Linked DNA regions of Homo sapiens. The protein of the gene in region 2 interacts with the protein of the main gene of each other region in a pairwise test. Each region holds a gene or a part of one and is shown on either strand. Other genes may lie near its edges. The genes, in order: ZNF33A, MAP3K20 and RPS6KA5.

The links.
Region 1: the proteins of MAP3K20 (region 2) and ZNF33A interact in a two-hybrid assay, tested with the Homo sapiens proteins (one study listed by BioGRID).
Region 3: the proteins of MAP3K20 (region 2) and RPS6KA5 interact in binary tests that used the Homo sapiens proteins (3 or more experiments, as listed by UniProt).

What each region holds. Positions count from the first base shown.
Region 1 is NC_000010.11:38,055,616-38,060,651, reverse strand, and holds the end of ZNF33A (zinc finger protein 33A), read right to left. Parts: coding exon 4,092-5,036; 3' UTR 565-4,091; downstream 1-564. UniProt on the Homo sapiens protein: May be involved in transcriptional regulation.
Region 2 is NC_000002.12:173,078,821-173,085,943, reverse strand, and holds part of MAP3K20 (mitogen-activated protein kinase kinase kinase 20), read right to left. Parts: intron 1-7,123. UniProt on the Homo sapiens protein: Stress-activated component of a protein kinase signal transduction cascade that promotes programmed cell death in response to various stress, such as ribosomal stress, osmotic shock and ionizing radiation.
Region 3 is NC_000014.9:90,896,601-90,903,723, reverse strand, and holds part of RPS6KA5 (ribosomal protein S6 kinase alpha-5), read left to right. Parts: intron 1-754; coding exon 755-916; intron 917-2,987; coding exon 2,988-3,113; intron 3,114-3,482; coding exon 3,483-3,616; intron 3,617-4,301; coding exon 4,302-4,395; intron 4,396-7,123. UniProt on the Homo sapiens protein: Serine/threonine-protein kinase that is required for the mitogen or stress-induced phosphorylation of the transcription factors CREB1 and ATF1 and for the regulation of the transcription factors RELA, STAT3 and ETV1/ER81, and that contributes to gene activation by histone phosphorylation and functions in the regulation of inflammatory genes.

The DNA.
Region 1 (5,036 bases), on a different chromosome or scaffold from region 2:
GAAGGAAGGATCCCCACCCCAATGCTATAGAAAGGTTGAACACTGAACGCCTGACACTGGACAGATAAGATCTAGGTGAGTTTGTCAGTCACACCAACTCTCAGAAAGGTGAGAAGGACACCACATGCTGGGAAGAGCCACACAGGGTTCGACTAGGGAGCAGAGTGGAAAAGGAGGGGTTGTGGCGAGCAGCTGTATTATCCAGAGTACAGTGACCACTGTTTGCTGTGGGAGGATGTGAGGGGTTTGGTGATAATTCCAAGAGCTGGCAGGGAAGCAAATCTTACTACTTAGGAATAAGCAGGAATTGTGCCTGGCCCCCCTGACAAGGAGGACTGTCTGCTAAGTTACCTCACCTGTGGAAGCAGAGTGGGGATGGAAATGAGGTTAGGTCATTTGAGGCCCTATTGGCTTCAGATGTCAAGAGAACCAAAAATACTAGTCCTTAATTTCAGGTCACAGTTACCATAATTTAAAATATATTAAGGATGTACAAAAGCAATTCAATTGTTCACTAATGATGATTTACATGTTCAGTCAGAAACATACAACTAACAAAAGAACACCTTAGTACAGAAACAAGATGTTCCTCAGGGTTGGTTGGTTGGTTATTTATTTACTTGATACACTTCATTTTTTAGAGTAGCTTTAGGGTTACAGAAAGTTGAGCAAAAAGTATAGAGAATTCTCATATAACCCTTTCCCCTCCCATCTTCCACAGGCTCCCCAATCATTAACATCTTGCATCATTATGGTTCATTTGTTACAATTAATGAGCCAACAGTGATACATTATTATTAACTGAAGTCCAGAGTTGACATTAGGGTTTACTCTGTGTTTTCCGTTCACTGTTTTCCATTCTCTGCGTTTTGACAAATTACAGTACCCTAGAGAGTACTTTCACTGCCTTAAAAATCACCTCTCTACCTGCCATCCCTCCTTTCCCCTCAACTCTCAGCAACCACTGGTCCTTTCACTGGCTCAATAGTTTTGCCTCTCCCAAAATGTCATATAATTGCAATCATACAAAATAGAAAGCCTTTTCAGATTGGTTTTCACTTAACAATAAGCATTTAGGGTTTCTCCGTGTCTTTTAATGACTTGATGTCCAATTCCTTTTTATCATCTACCTGAGGACTGTATCCTGCAATCCTGCTGTAATTGCTTATTAATGTCAGCAGGGTTTTTGTTATTTAGAATTCTCTACAAAGACAATCATGTTACTTGTGAACAAAGTTGTATTTCATCCTTTCAAATCTATGTGCATTTTATTTCTTTTTTTTTTAACACTGCATTATATAGCACTTCCAGTACAATGCTGAAAAGCAGTGGTGTGGTGTTCCTTGCCATGTTCCTGATCTTAGTAGGAAAGTGTCTAGTTGGAAACATCAAGGATAATGTTAGCTGTAGGGTTTTTTGTAGTATGTTCTTTACCAACTTGAGTAAGTTCTCCTGTATTCCTTCTGTGTTGAGAGGTTTTAACATGAATGGATATTGGATTTTGTCAAATGCTTTTTCTGTACCTATTGATATGATCGTATTTCATCTTTGAGCTGCTAATGCATGCAATGGATTACACTGAATATCAAATGTTGAACAAGCCTTGCATTCCTGATTTGCTAATATTTTGAGGATTTCTGCATCTGTGTTCAATGGAAATATTGATCTGTAGTTTTCCTTTCTTGTAATATCTTTGCCTGGTTTTGCTATTAGGGTAATACTGGCCTCACAAAATGAGTTGGGAAGTGTTATCTCTGCTTTTATTTTCTGAAAGAGATGGTAGAGACTTGGTATCATTTCTACCTTAAGTATCTCAAAAACACATCAGTGAACCCAGCTGGTCCTGGCACTTTGTTTTGGAAAGTTTCATTATTATTTTTTGAGATGCAGTCTCATTCTGTCACCCAGGCTGCAGTACAGTGGCACAATCTCAGCTCACTGCAACATCCACCTCCCAGGTTCAAGTGATTCTTCTGCCTCAGCCTCCTGAGTAGCTTCGACTACACACGCATGCCACCATGCCCAGCTAATTTTTTGTATTTTTAGTAGATAGGGGGTTTCACCATGTTGACCAGGCTGGTCTCGAACTCCTGACCTTGTGATCCACCCGCCTCAGCCTCCCAAAGTGAAGTGCTGGGATTACAGGCATGAACCACTGTACCTGGCCTTGGAAGGTTATTAATTACTGCTTTGGTTTATTTAATAGATACATATGCCTATTGAGGTCTATCTTGTGTGAGCTTTGAGAGAATGCGTCTTGCAAGGAATTGGTCCATTTTAGCTAAGTTATCAAATTTATGGACAGAGTTGTCCATGTTTCTTTCTAATCCTTTTGGTGACCATAGGATTAGCTGTGATGGCCTCTTTCATTTTTGGTATTAGCAATATTTGTCTTCTGTTTGTTCTTAAGCTAGCTAGAGGTTTATCAATTTTACTGACCTTTTCAAGGAACCAGTTTTGGGTTTTATCGATTTTCTCTTTTCAATTTCAATGATTTTTACTCTAATGTTTTTTCAGGTTACTTTGGATTTAATTTGCTCTTCTTTTTCTAGTTTCCTAAAGTGGAAGCTTAGATTACTTGTGTAATCTAGGATCACTAGACTGTATAATCTTAGATTATTTGTATGATCTGATCATGTAATATAGTGTACAATCTTCACACTATCAATAAAAGCCCCACACCAGCTTGATTCTGGTTCTGCTCCAGCCTCAACCCTCCTCTTCATATTCTCAAAAGTCTGAGGGCCCAGATCCCTGTCTGGGGACAATGAGCCTTGAAATGACAGTCCAACAGCCCTGGGCAGCCCTGGGCTGTATGTGTGGGCCTTTCCAGGGCCCTGTCTTGGAGAGCAGCTGCTTAAAGAAAATTTGGACTACCACTTATGCTGAAGGCTGGAATGTTCACATATGTACCCTAGGCACTTCATGGCATGGCATGAGCCACAGGTAGGAAGAGAAAGGGAGTAACATGGAGGCGAGCCTAGATCTTCACATGTACAGGATAGATTTTTTTTAGATAATTTGTTATTTTGATTTATACCTTTTAAATGGATAAACATTAGCTCTGTGGGTCTCCTTTTAAATTGTTTCAGGACATCACAAACATCTGGGATGGGCCTGATAATGTAACCACTACTAAACTAGGATACCTACTTCCTATTCACAATTACGTTAAATTCCATTATGCATATGAAACACACGATTTATATCACATACCACTTATACATATATAAGTCTTTTGAACTTCAGGGATAATTCGCAGATGTGCTTAATGCTATTGCCCTGATTATTCAATTTATCTGTGCTTTAAAAAAACTTCATAGTCAAGTGGATGCAAGGGATAGGGTTGCAGAAAGCGTGTGGTTATTAATACAAAAAGGGAACTACTTGAGGCTAAATCCTTTGTAATCCTGATACAGTACAGATCTCAGATTCCTTTTCAGTTCTGTAAACTAATCGTGTTGATGGTTACTCAAATGTAAAAGTCGTAAAAGTTTGATATAACCACACACACACACATACACGTACACACACACACAGAGTGCATGCAAACCATAGTAAAATCTGACTAAGTCTCTATCTACCAGCAAGGTAACATCGATTTCTTGGACTTGACCATATACTATGATTATACATTATCCTTAGAGGAAGTTTGGTGAAGTGTACATGGGAATTCTCTCTACTCATTAAACTTCTTGTGAGGTTATTTTAATTATTACCTTTGTTTAAGTTCTTAAAGCTTTACATTCCACAATATACATCTATAAATTATTGTTAGGTGCCCTAAAAACTATTATGGCATCAAACTCAAAACATAACTTGTCGTATTTTATTTCTAAGCAAAATTTTCACTTTAGATTTCTTAAATTGACAATTTTCTCCTCAGTGTAAATTCTAACATAACCTTATTTGCATTTTTGCCAAAAACTTTCACAAATTCAAAAAAAATCTGTAAGGTGTTATGCCCGTATTAACCATCTGATATTACATAGAATATCACTTCCTAACAAAAGCTGTCCTATAATTGTTGTAGTCTATGGGTTTATCCCCTACTATTACTTTGGAGTAACATAAGGTGAGTTTGTGGATAGTTACTGAACATTCAGGATGTCATCAGGGCTTTCTCCACAGTGTGAATACTCTGAGGCATTATGGAGGCTGACTTGTGGCTGGAAATTTCTAATATCCATTTCATTCATAAGGTTTTCTCCTATATGTCTTCTCTGATGTACAATGAGATTTGACTTTTGAGAGAAAGTTTTCCTGCATGTGTTACATTCATAGGGCTTTTCCCCTGTATGTGATCTCTGATGTTGAGCAAGTTCCGATTTACGGTAAAAGATTTTTCCACATTCATTACATTGACAAGATTTCTCTCCTGTGTGAGCCCTGTGATGTACTGTGAGTGATGATTTGTGCCTGAAGAATTTCCCACATTCATTGCATTCATAGGGTTTCTCCCCCGTGTGCTTTCTCTCATGGAAAATAAGTCCTGATTTTACACAGAAAGATTTTCCACATTCATTACATTTATAGGGCTTTTCTTGTGTATGGGTTCTCTGATGTACAATTAGAGCTGACTTATGGCAGAAAGCTTTTCCACACTCATTACATTTATAGGGTTTCTCCCCTATGTGAATTCTCTGATGCTGAGTGAGTTGTGACTTCTGGTAGAAGGCTTTTCCACATTCATTACATTCATAGGGTTTCTCCCCTGTATGTGTTCTATTATGTTTAGTTAGGTATGATTTATTGTAAAAGATTTTTCCACATTCATGACATTCGTAGGGTTTCTCCCCTGTGTGTGTTCTATAATGTTGAGAGAGGGTTGACTTATGGCTAAAGAATTTCCCACATTCGGGACATGCAAAGGGTTTCTGCCCTGTGTGTGTTCTCTGATGTACTGTGAGGTCTGACTTCAAGCAGAAGGTTTTCCCACATTCATAACATTCATAAGGTTTCCACCCTGTATGAATTATCTGATGCCTGGTGAGTAATGACTTGTGGTAGAAAGTTTTCCCACATGCATTACATTC
Region 2 (7,123 bases):
TGCATCTGTAATCACAGCTACCTGGGAGGTTGAGGCAGGAGAATTGCTCGAACCGTAGAGGCAGAGGTTACTGTGAGCCAAGATCGCACCACTGCACTCCAGCCTGGACAACAGAGCAAGGCTCTATCTCAAAAAAAAAAAAAAAAAAAAAAAAAAAAATTGCTTTTACACAAAAAAGGCAATTTTGCTCCACGCAACAATGCTCAGTTTTAGTTTTGTAGGATTCTAACTGTTGTTTTATAAACTCTCAAAGCTGTTTTAAATGTTAAGTATCTACCATACAATACTGAAGGGTAAGTTAGAGCAGAAATGTCACAAAAATCAAAGTAAAATAAGGCATCACAACTCTGTAAATGTTGAAAATCAATAATTTGGTGGTTGAATCCAATCATTTCACTACTTGAGTAGAATGTCAAAAAATTTTTAATTTAAAGTTTTCCTTAAATTAAAATTCAAAAACATTTAACTATTAACCAAATTGCTGAAAGCATATATAGCAGCATCACCTAATTATGAAAAGTGGAAACATAAGAAGGTAGGAAATCTTAAAGAATTATTTTACTTTTTAAAGTTTTCAATCTTCTAGTCCAAAAAAATAGACTTAAGTTTCTCTATTCACAGACCTTCTATTTTGCTTCTTGATTTTTCAGATCCATGTTGACCTCAAATAAGTCATTTACCTTTTCACTGTTACTTTTGCCCCAAATTAAAAACAAAAATGACCCCACTACAGTTCTAATGTTAAAAAGCAAGGTTTTAGAATTAGATTGATAGGAGTTTGAACTCTCCCTCCACCTCTCGGTAACTTTAACAAATCACTTTTTCTCAGACTGTGGCATTTCCAGATGCATAAATAAAAAATTTCAAATCTTTTCCATTCAATGTCACAAAACTGATAGCCCCAAAGTTATCAAGTTTGCATAGTATTTGACTTCATTGATACATCTCACTTCCAAATAAGAGATATTTCAACAGGGAAGTAGCATGATTCAGGGTAAAGACCCCTACTAGAGAGATCTATGAGCAGATCTGTTATTAGCTACTTGGGCAAGGCACTGTGTCTCTCTGACCTCACTGTTCTCACTGGCAATAATACCAGTGCTGTGAAAGTGCATACGTGAGCACAGTGCCTAGTATATGGTATACATGCAATTAATGGAAATTATGGTTTTCTCATTATTTTAATAACCCTTGATATCATATTTAGCCATCTATTCCTTCAGTTTTTATGGTCAGGTATGCTCTCAATAGCTTTCCTCTCCCCATTTTCAGAATTGTTTTATATTATATCTCTTAGTTTTGTAGAGCAATTATTAACAAATAAAGGTGCTATTGATCCCTGAATCCTTTCCCTCTCTTTGCCTATTTTCTAATTCTTTCTCATTCCTCTGTTTAACTGCCGTTTTTGGTTTTTGTCATTTCTGAAAGATCTTATTAGTAAGTAATTATAATTTCTTTTAAGCTTTTTTCATAATGTATTTAAATTGCTAAAACACAATACTTTTCTTTTTTTTTTTTTGCACTTTTTGGACATTAGCATTGCTAAGATCTATTTATTCAATGATAGCACTCACTTTGGTAGGGTGCTGGAGCATCCCCTCCTTCCCCAGTGACCACGGTCTTCTTTCAGACATTATCTGCTGCACAGTCAATTGCACGTCTAACCCAAGAAAACTTAACCTGATTATCCAATACCTGCAAGTGATGATTTTTTAAAAAAAATTAAATCTACTTTGGCCGGGCACAGTGGCTCACACCTGCAATCCCAGCATTTTGGGAAGCAGAGGTTGGAGGATCACTTGAGCTCAGCTGGGGCAACATAGGGAGATCTCATTTCTAAAAGTAAAAATAAAAACCTACTTTATGAAAGGATTAACTTTACTAGAAAAAAGGTCTTTGAACTTTCTCTGGATGTTTCTATCTTGTGGTTTTATATGGGCCTATATTTCTGAATTTAGAGCCTTCCTCTTTTCCTGTCCCTAATTCATACTTTCCTTTCCCCCTTCTTCAAAAAGTAAGGTTGCCAGTTTACTTTTTATACAATATAGGAAGAAAAACTTACACGTTTTATCATGACCTGGATGTGACAAAAAAGATACTTTTTGAAAAGAGCTTTCAATATTCAGCAAATTATTTTGCCAAACTTGCTGCCTTGATATTTATGCTAGTATTATTTCAGCCTCTTTAACATAGATCAGTGAATAAATTAATAATATGTGCTTTGTCATCATGTGTATAAAAAGAACACCACTTGGAATCACTGTTCTGCAATTTTTTTCCCCTGAGTCTTATCTTCAAAAAAATGAGGAAAGCTCTGGTTCAGTGTATTTGTCCGTAACACCAAGGTCAAAGATTCAAAGATTCTATTCCTCAACAGGACTGCTGTTCTACTATTTTTTTTTAATCACTAAAAAAGATAAAAGCTGGCTGGGTACAGTGGCTCACACCTGTAATCCCAGCACTCTGCAAGGCTGAGGCAGGAGGATCGCTTGAGCCCAGGAGGTCGAGGCTGCAGTGAGCTATGATTACGCCACTGCACTCCAGCCTGGGTGACAGTGAGACTCTGTCTCAAAAAAAAAAAATAAAAAATAAAAAAATAAAAGTTGCAAGACTAGGTATAGGAACAGAACCAACTTGTACTGTATCTACCAGATATTTCCTTTCTTCCTCCAAGGCTGCTCCTAGAAAAATAGTGTATCTTATACAGAGTAGGTTGGGTTCAGTAAATAGGACTTCAGGCATAGATATCTGAGAGAACCCAACTTTAAATAAGAATCCAAAAAACAGAATAGCCATTGTTTCATATTTTCCCCCTTCCTCTATCTTTACCATATAAAAGTAATGTAACTCTCTAGTTAGAGCAATGGTAAGAATAAAAATAAGCTAAACATTCTTATTGAAATATTAAAGTAATTTAGTAGTGAGGCATTCTTATTGAAATAATTAAAGTAATTTAATAAAAGTCAACTTCCACAACACACTTCCTTACCAAAAGTATTGTTACCAGAAGTAAAAGATGGGAGGCACAGGAATGTAGTTGGTGGGAGCACTTAACGCCACAGAAATGCTGCGTGGAAACATGTCTGTGCTCAAACAGAAGCCCAACAAGGAAACATGAAGTGGATACAACCTACGGCCACGGCATAGGCCGCTGCGTGGGCTTGTTGTGTTGAGTAGCTGGGAGCTTCTTGCAGCATGAGGAAGAGAATGGGGCCAGAGTTGAATAAAGTGAGGGTGCACGGAGAGGGGAGATTTCTAGGGCTTGGCCAGAAGAGGAATTCACAGGTGTCAGGACTGGGGATGAGGAGAAAGCCGTAGCCTATGAGTAAACAAGGCTCACTTCAGTTCGCTACCTCCCACCTATCCTGCCCCCACCCTAGGTCTTGCTGCTACTCAGCCCTTGTTTGTACCCCAAATCGTTTTCTGTCAAATAGAAAGTATCAGACCATCCTGGCTGCTGACAGACAGGTACAACTTTGGACTGAGTGCCTGGAATGAATACTCCCTGAGAAGGGTGAATGCAAGAGTTAAAACATGGTAACCTCAATGTAAGATGAAGGGTGAAAGGAATGGGGATGGTAAAACTAGGGAAGACTAAGACCTTATATTATGTTTTGATGATCAAGAGGCAAGGCTATCTGTGGATGAAAGTTACAGAAAGAATTTCTGGTTCTTTGGGAGGCCAAAGTGGGAGTATCGCTTGAGGTCAGGCATTTAAGACCAACTTGGGCAGCATAGTGAGATCCCATCTGTACAAAAAATGAATAAATAAAAATTAGCCAGGTGTGGTGGTTCATGCCTGTAGTCCCTGCTACTCAAGAGACTGAGGTGGGAGGATAGCTTGGGCCCAAGAGTTCAAGGTTGCCATAAGCTATGATTATGCCACTGCACAAAGTGAGACCCTGTCTCCAAAAAAAAAACAAAGGATTCCTGGTTTAGAGTTGGCCAACAAGAAAATCTGCCACCCTCTTTAGTAGTGAGTGACCCATCACCAAGAGCGTTCAATGGGATATGCGGTGTAGAGTGGGAGTGGGAGACTCTTGCATCAGCTAAGAGGGCAGAATGAAACCACTTTAAGACCCACTCCAACCCTGTTGAGTTGATGACTAATCTACTATAAAGTATAGACGGTCTCCCTCCTTTTCTGAGGGAAGCAGTCATGAACCCGACACCAAACATCATGGAGAAGCACAGTGAACCACATCAGTGATGGAAATAAAGGAAACGATTTGGCCATCTTCTTCAATTTCTCCTCCCAAACTGGGTGAGAAGCTAAGAGCCACATTCCAGGTTTCTATCCTAAAACTTTCCTCTTCCTTCCCCCCAATTCCCAAAGCAAAGAGATCTCTTTGTCTTGAAAGCCATCGTATAACCACCTAACATCAAAACTCTTTGGATGATGATCTACCCCTATTCTTTTATCAGCAAAATGGAATTGCACTACCCCATGCAGTATTGGGCTGCAGAGCTTAATGGTGCAGGACTCTTTATTAGGACCAATCCCATGTTCCTCGTGTGCTTATTCCCATACGTGGTATTACACAGTACTGTGCAGAAGGTGATATGAATAAACAGCTGTCCTACAGCATCAATTTCACTTTAACACTATGGGGAATAAGCCAGGCAAGGTAGCACATACCCTCAGCCCCAGCTACAGGGAAAGTTCAGGTGGGAGGATTGCTAGAGCACAGGAGTTCAAGGCCAGCCTGGACAACATAGCAAGACTCTGTTTCTAAAAAAAAAAAAAAAAAAAATTTGTCTTTTTTAAAATATGTGTCTGTATCGATTTGTTCAATTTAAGTAAAACAGTGTAGGACAGAAGAGAATGCAAAATCCACATAAATTTTTAAGATTAAATATAAAATTTTAAAGCAAGTACTTGCTTGCATTGGGGTATCTGTGGCTATACGGACAAATTCTTGAAGGAAAACATTCATTTATCCCCACAATAGAGTACTTTGGTAGAAAAGTTTAATAAGTAAAGATTTATTACATGACGTGCAGACAGCAATTCTTTCCTTTTCTTTTTGGTTTTCTTAAATGGAAGCCTGGAGATGAGTCCAGAAAGAAGGGTATTGGGGCCTTGCTCAAAATTAGCTATAAAAATGGTTCCAAGTGGTTCTAAAGCACACTTTAGAAACACTTATACTCAAAGCAGGAGAGTAGTTATGAAAACCTACATACCCACTACATAAGTATAACTTGGGAACAGGACAGGGTACCAAAGGCAAGCCTTAGCTGGAAGAGCTGAGTGCTATGGTAGGAATGCTCCCACCAAAATTCATGTTGAAACTTAATTACTTAATCGCTAATGTAACAGTACTGGGAAGCAGAACCTTTAAGAGGTGATTAGGTCATAAATGGATTCTCACTGTTATCCTGGGAGTAGGTTAATTATCTCAGGAGTTCACTTTTTCTCTTTGTCTTTCATGGCTTGCTTTCGCCTTCCACCCTTCCACAATGGGTGATTCTCGCCAGATGCCAGAGCCATGTACCTGGACTTCCCAGGCTCCAGAACCATGAGCCAAATAAATTACCCTTGTTCCTTGTAAATTACCCAGGCTGTGACAGACTGCTCTAGCAGCAGAAAACAGACTAGGACAGTGGGCAAGCAGCTCTGCGTATAACTTGAGAGATGTAGTAAAACATCCTTCTTTACCACATTGATACAGTGGCTGAAATTTCAGGCACTGTTACAAGCATTTCTATGTGCTTTCTCATAAAGTCATGCACCACATAACTATGCTTTAGTCAACAATGGACTGCATATATAACAGCGATCCCATAAGATTGTAATAAAGCTGAAAAATTCCTATTGCTGAGTGATGGCACAGTTTCCTAACATCATAGCACAATGCATTACTCATGTGTTTGTGGTGATGCTGGTGTAAACAAACTTATTATGCTGCCAGCTGTATAAAGGTACGGCACATACAATTATGTACAGTGCACAATGCTTGATAAGGATAATGACTGTGTTACTCATTTATGTATTTACTATACTTTTTATCCTCATTTTAGAGCATACTCTTTCCACTTAAAAAAAAAAAAAAGAAAATTAACTGAGGCAGGTCCTTCAGGAGGTGTCCAGAAGAAGGCATTGTTATCACTGGAGATGGGGAGATGGCAGCTCCATATACATTACTGCCCCTGAAGACCTTCCAGTGAGCCAAGATGTGGAGGTAGAAAACAGTGATATTGACGATCCTAACCCCATGTGGGGCTAGGCTGATGTGTGTGTTTCTGTCTTAGTTTTTAACAAAGTTTAAGAAGCAAAACAAATTTTTTTTTAAATTTAAAAATAGAAAAAAAATCTTACAGAATAAGGATATAAAGAATTTTTGTATAGCTGTACAATGTGTTTGTGTTTTAAGCTAAGTGTTATTTCAAAAGACTCAAAAAGTTAAAAAAAAGTTTAAAGTTTATAAAACAAGAAAGTTACAGCAAGCTAAGGTTAATTTATTATTGAAGAAAAATGTTTAAATAAATCTAGTAGAGCCTAAGTGTACAGTGTTTATAAAGTCTACAGTAGTGTACAGTGATGTCCTGGGCCTTCACATTCCCTCACCACTCACTCACTGACTTGCCCCAAACAACTTCCAGTCCTGCAACCTCCATTCATGGTAAATGCCCTATACGGGTGTACCATTTTTTATCTTTGATACTGTATATTTTATACTGTATTTTTACTGTGCCTTTTCTATTTTTCGATAGAAATACTTATTACTGTGTTACAACTGCCTATTCAGTATAGCAGCATGCTACATAGGTCTGTAGCCTAGGAGCAACGGACTATCTCACACAGCCTAGGTGTGTAGTAGGCTATAGCATCTAGGTTTGTGTAGGTGCACGCTGTGGTATTTACACAACTACAACATCACGTAACAACACAGTTCTCTCAGAACGTATCCCCATCATTAATGGACACATGACTGTACTTATCCTTAGGAAGCAGGTACTACTGTTCCTAACTTACATGAGTGAGAAAACTGAGGATCAGGGGTATGAAAGTAGCTCAAGCCAACTACCTTACAGGTGACACAACTTGTGTCAAATTCAGGCCTGACTCCAAAGTCATATCATTGTTTTCTACCATATCATGTCTTTTTGTTAATAACATTCT
Region 3 (7,123 bases), on a different chromosome or scaffold from region 2:
AATTCAGTAAGTGTTATCTGAGATTGTTTTAAATGATAGAAGGAGCACAAAGAAACAGAGCAAAGGGTTGGATTTCAGTAATATAACTCAGTAAGTGACCTAGAGGGAAAAGGGGCTTGCATTATTCTATGGGGGACATAAGAGGCAGTGTTTAAAATGCTTGAACACAGTTGAATAAGAAAAGAGTGATCACATCCATATGATGGTATCATTTGAACTTCTAGACATAAGCACATGCCTGATTTACAGTGGATTTATTTTCCAGTCTGTCTGGATGCCCAGGAGGAAAAGCAAGTGCAGGCAGAGAGCTAAGTAACACTGCCTCTAGAAAATAGGAACATTCTTTTAGAGCTAATATCCACATCTGTAGAGCCTTTGGAAACCCTTTATTTCAGTTTTTTATTTTGTTTTGGGTTTTTTGTTTTCTTTTTGGCTTAACACCTTTCTGAGGAGGCTCAGGACAAAAGTATTCTTCTGTTGTCTTTAAAGGTAAACTAGGGTGTCTTGGTGCCCCCCAGAGGACACTCTGAGATTCAACAGCGATAGTCTCATCTTTGAGGCACAGCATTGGTTGGAGCTATAAACTGCTGTGATCTTGTTTGGAGAAAATATGTTTTTTATTATTGATTTGAAATATGTTCTCTTATTTTTATCCTCTCTCCCTACCAGTCAAAATCCTAATTTATCTTTGTTATTCTTAGAAAGTACATTTTGACTATTGATTTCTACTTTGTACCAACTTTCTTTGTTTTAGAAAATAAATTGGGATGATTTAGCCGCCAAAAAAGTGCCTGCACCATTTAAGCCAGTCATTCGAGATGAATTAGATGTGAGTAACTTTGCAGAAGAGTTCACAGAAATGGATCCCACTTATTCTCCCGCAGCCCTGCCCCAGAGTTCTGAGAAGCTGTTTCAGGTAATTTCCCATCCTGTGCACATGCACATTGGCCATATGTCCTTTGAAAGAAAAGATTAAATTTCCCATATTGAAGTAGTTTTGTTGGCATCATAAAAATGGGATTCTCTAATATCCTCTAAATTATTAAATGCAGAAATATTGCACATTGTTAACCGAAGCTTATAGTTTGCTCAATAGCAGATATTGTTTATGCATTTATTTTTGATATAAGGGAAGTTTTAATTTTATACCTGAAATTTTATTTTTGTTCAGATTCTTTTATAGAAAATACAATAATCTTTTATTTTACCTCTATTCATATTTAAAAATTTTTATTTATATAGACAGGGTCTCACTCTGATGCCCAGACTGGAGTGTAGCAGTGCTGTCCTAGCTCACTGCAGCCTCAGACTCCTGGGCTCAAGTGATCCTCTCACCTTAGCCTCTGGGATAGCTGAGACCACAGGTGCAAACCAGCACACCCAGCTAATTTTTCTATTTTTTGCAGAGATAGGATCTTGCTATGTTGCCTAAGCTGGTCTTGAACTCCTGGCCTCAAGTGATCCTCCTGCCTTGGCCTCCCAAAGTGCTGGCATTACAGGCATGAGCCACCACGTCCAGCCAAAAAAATTTTTTTTTTTTAAGAAACAAGGTCTCACTCTGTCACCCAGGCTGGAGTGCAGTGGCATGATCATAGCTCACTGCAGCCTTTTTAACTGCTTGGCTCAGGGGATCCTCTTGCCTCAGCCTCCTGAATAGCTGGGACCACAGGTGCATGCCACCACACCCACCTAATTAAAAAAAAATTGTAGAAACAGGGTCTTACTTTGTTGCCTAAGCTGGTCTTGAACTCTGGCCTCAAGCGATCCTCCTGCCTTGGCCTCCCAAAGTGCTGGGATTCTAGGCATGAGCCACCGTGCCCCTCAACCCCCATATAAAAACATTCTTTAGTTCACAATGTTACCTTATTCTTTACCTTCAGTAATTAATCTTAACTGCTGTTAAAAAAAGATTTAGATTTTATATTTAGAAAAGGGCATTTGTCACACAAGATAAAATATTCTAACTATTAAATGGCATCAGAGCTTTGCTTCTTTGACTTCTATAAGTATACCTTTAGTATGGCTTAATCTGGCCATCCAGACGGTGTCTTTTCTTCTTTGCTTATCACTGTCTAGTATGTGACTGGGCACTTATTGAACATTTTTTTAAATGTTTGTTGATTAGTGAATGTTCTAGCTTGAACGGATTAATCATCCGTCTTTGTACCACTTAGCTCAGAGCATCATTCTGCCATTAGACTTTGTTCCTTTCCAAAACTCAATTTTAAATTTAATTATTCTGAAGATATTAATAAGAATCAAATAATTGCTAAATTAGAAACTAACTTTAGTGAGACTTGCCATTTTTCCAGTTTGAAAAACAATAGCATTTAAAGACCACTTTGTGGCTGGGTCTGGTGGCTCAGGCCTTTAATCCCAGCACTTTTGGAGGCCGAGGTGGGTTGATCACTTGAGGTCAGGGGTTTGAGACCAGTTCGAGACATGGTGAAACCCCGTCAGGCATGGTGGCATGTGCCTATAATCCCAGCTACTTGGGAGGCTGAGGCAGGAGAATGGCTTGAACGCAGGAGGCAGAAGTTGCAGTGAGCCAAGATCGCACCACTGCACTCCAGCCTGGGCAACAGAGCCAGACTCAATCTCAAAAAAAAAAGACCACTTTGTTTAATACCTTGACTGTATCCTTTTTTGAGAAGTTAGTTATGTTTGTAAACAAATTTCATCAGCAAACCAGGAGAATTTCATCTATGAGTCTGATTTTGGGGGTGGAATAGGGAAGAAGTCTTTTTCTACCTTTATTTTTGAATTGGTTTAGTTCTACCAGAAGATGGCATTATATCCTTCTGAACAGCATTTTTCAAATGATTTGAAATAACCTTGCATTTTAGATTGCAAATAAAATAAAATTAGACTCATCTCAACAAATATTTGAGTGTTTTTCTAAGGAAAAAAAGTCATTACAATCTAATCTGTGTTAAACTGGAAAACTGCAAGTTGTTTTTCTTTATCTTTCTTTGTCTTGTTTTTAGGGCTATTCCTTTGTTGCTCCTTCCATCCTATTCAAGCGTAATGCAGCTGTCATAGACCCTCTTCAGTTTCACATGGGAGTTGAACGTCCTGGAGTGACAAATGTTGCCAGGAGTGCAATGATGAAGGTATATAGATGTGGTAACTTATATGACATATTTGTAGGTTTTGTGAGTGTTTAAATACCAACTCTAATTAATGTTCTTAAGTCTAGTAATTCAACTAAAGTGCAATTTTAAAAGTGGGATATAGCAATATTTTCCCTAGAGAATTAACGTCAAGTTGAATGAACTTCTTTTTACAATTATAGAGAATTATGTATCTTAAATAATTATTTAGATGAAAATAGAAGTTACCTATAAAGATGAATTTTAGATTATAAATGTATTCTATTCCTGTTTATTAATATTAATAATTTTATTTTACTCTACAATTTTATTGATCCTTTGTGTATTACTGACATTTTCTGAAGTTAAATGATGTTGATTTCTTGACAGGACTCTCCATTCTATCAACACTATGACCTAGATTTGAAGGACAAACCCCTGGGAGAAGGTAGTTTTTCAATTTGTCGAAAGTGTGTGCATAAAAAAAGTAACCAAGCTTTTGCAGTCAAAATAATCAGCAAAAGGTATGACCATTTTTAATATAATATTCTTTCTTAGGTATTCATGAATTCTGTAAATTAAAAGATATTTATTTTAATTGAAACCAGTATTATATTGTAAGACTTTCTTACCCAAAGGTTTAACCACTTGGCTCATCAGTTGGTCCATTATACTTTTAGCTCTAATTGATATTTTCTGATAAAGTAATCCATTTTAGACATAAATCATAGTCTTATTTGCTTTTGAGTTTATCTAGAGAAAACGTCTTTGTGACAGTGACATATTTAATCAGGCTCACATAGTGATTTTGGCAGCCATTGCCATTTCTACTAGTTGTGTATTTGAAATATTTTTCTCTAAAATTATTTAGCAAGCTACTGATAGCTTTGAGAGCCATCTAGTTGTTTTGGTAACTGATGATTATTATTAAGATTGCATATTCTTATTACTCTAAATTGTCAGGAAAGTAGAGCATTCATTTCCTCATATGATTTGTACTTTTCTGACTCAGAAATAATAATTTTCTCCAGAATATTACTTTTTCTAGTGTGTGGTATAATTCATTACTTTCATGGAAACCTCATTACAGTATACTGTAACATGTATATTCTGAATGCACTGTAAATAAGACAAAATTAGTCTTGGGGCAGTACTGATATAAAAACTTTCTTGAAGAGACATGTGGATGCTAAGTGTCTCATCTTGCAGGATGGAAGCCAATACTCAAAAGGAAATAACAGCTCTGAAACTCTGTGAAGGACACCCCAATATTGTGAAGTTGCATGAAGTTTTTCATGATCAGGTATCCTACTTTTTTTTTTTTTTTTTCCCATGTGTACTAATTCACTTACAGGGTTGTACTTTTCACGCGTTTTGTTGGTGCTGCTGGGTCAGAGTCAGGGATATAGAACATCACCCAGCCACCAGAAAGGGCAGTGAAACCACCCTCTCAAACCCCTCCCCAACCACACACTGTTTCCCAACCCCAAATCAGGTTATCCCTTCACCTCTCATGCTTTTCTCACTCAGCAGTTAACCACCTATGACAGGAAGACGGAGGGCCAGGAGCTCAGTGGTGCAGTCACTGGCTACAATGTGCTTGTTGCCAGTGCCGCTTCTACCCACCATCACTTAATCCTGGAGTACCTCTCAGGACTCAGGAATTTTGAGCCTCCAACTTCCCTTTCACTTCTAGAGTAAAACTGAGAGAGCCTGGAGCCTAATTAATGCAAGCTAAAGGACAAATAGGAAGCAGAAAGCAAAGATACTCCTTTTATCTTCTAGCTCCAGGTGGTAAATTCTGCTCAGAACCCTGGCCAGATCATGCTGCCCCCTCTTCTGCTCTCAGTCCTGCTTTGCAGCAGGAACTATGGGAGGATGCCAGTGTGTCCAGTTCGTGTCTGTTCACCTCACACATGACAGAAATTGCTCCATTACACTTCTCTGCCCCTGAGACCAGGTGGGGTGATGCAGTCCTACTTAAGACAACTTGGAGGCACAAGAGCACAAACCAATCCTGAATGTGCTTTGCCCTAATTTTACCAATAAAGAAACTGAGATTTTGAATGTTCATAAAACTTGTCTAAGGTCACATAGCATGTCAATGCGAATCTAATAAGGAGAACCTGTACTCCAGTTCTGGGCTCTCTTTGTTGTGCTGTTGTAATATCTGTGACCTAGGATCGATGGGGCCCAGTTCTCTACCACATTGAAATATCCTCGAGTGCTATTGCCAGGAATGATACATCATGGTGAGACCAGGCAGCAGCAGCAGTAGCACCATAACCATAATAGCTGCTGCCATTTATTATCACATATCTTGTGTGGTCTAGGTTCTGTACCAGGCACTCTGCATGTATTGTCTTATTCAGTCCTTACCATAGGTCCATGAGGTGAGAAAATGGACACTCATAGAAGTTAAGTAACAGGTCTTACAGTTGGTAAGTGTGGTAAGGCTGGGATCTGAATCCACACAGTCCAACTTCAGAGCCCAACAAGCTTTTATTTACTTTAAACTACTGCCTTAGGGAAGGCAGAATCACATCTGGCAGTAAGCATCCCAAAATGGCATCATCCTCTACTCACTCTTTGGTTCTTGTAGTCAGAAAAGAAATGCCACTGAAGCAAGGACTCAGGGGGAACCGCTCTCCCTGATCCTCTACCTCCTCTTGCCTCATCAAGCCACTCGACACAAGAGGAGGTAATGAGTCCCCTGGCCACGAAGGTGCTTAAGAAGAGGCTCACTAGACAGTCTCCTGTTGAAGATGATATAGAGGAAATTCACATCATTCAAGGAATCAACGGGTGATCTTAGATGCTCTCCTCTGGGTTTGCAGCTGTGCCCATAACTACATCCCAGACAAGATACTTGATCTCTGACCTTCAGACTAATGTCAGGTCCCATGAACAACATTTCTAATTTTTTATTTGTGTCACAAATTAAGTAGATGTTTTGCTATTTATATATTCAGGAGTTACTAAAATATAAATTGTCACATGATATAATCCTATACAAACTAGTATAAATACATTATCAATCTAATATGCAGTTGTAATGTATCTTGGGTTTTCTCATAATGGTGGCACAGTTGCCTAGATCATCCCTGTATCCAGTCTTTTCTTCAACTAATGGGTGAAATTGGTTATGGTGGGTCTTCAGCCTTTGTGCAATAGCATAGTTCATTTTGTGTGCCATGATATGCGTTTCACGTACTCCATGAGTTTGCTATTGCTGCTGCAACAAATCACCACAAACTTAAAACAATACAAATTTATTATCCTGCAGTCTGGAGGTCAGAAGTCCAAAATCAGGCCCATTGGCTTAAAGTCAAGCTGTCACCAGAGCTGGTTCCCTCTTGAGCAGAACCAGGTGCACAGCGGGAGGTGAGTGGCAGGTGAGCCAGCATTACTGCCTGAACTCCACCTCTTGGCAGATCAGCGACAGCCTTAGATTCTCACTGGAGTACAAACTCTATTGTGAACTGCGCATGGCGAGGGATCAAAGTTGCAGCACTCCTTATAAGAATCTAATGCCTGTCCCACCCCACTACTGCCTCCCCTCGTCCATGGAAAAATTGCCTTCCGTGAAACCATTTCCTGGTGCCAAAAAAGTTGCGGACCTGGCTCATGCCTGTAATTCCAGCACTTTGGGAAGGTGAGGCAGGTGGATCACTTGAGGTCAGGAGTTTGAGACCAGTCTGGCCAACATGGTGAGACCCTATCTCTACCAAAAAATACAAAAAATTAGTCAGGCGTGGTGTTGTGCGCCTGTAGTCCTAGCTACTCTGGAGGCTGAGGTGGGATAATCCGTTGAACTTGGGAGGCGGAGGTTGCAGTGAGCCAAGACTGCACCACTGCACTCCAGCCTGGGTGATAGAGTGAGACCCTGTCTCAAAAAAATAAGAAAACAAAAAAGAAAAAAAATGTTGAGGATCACTGCTCTGGAGGCTCTAAGGGACAACCCATTTACTTTCCTTTTGTAGCTTCTAGACACCCCCCAACATTTCCTTGGCTGTGAGCCTTCCATGCAT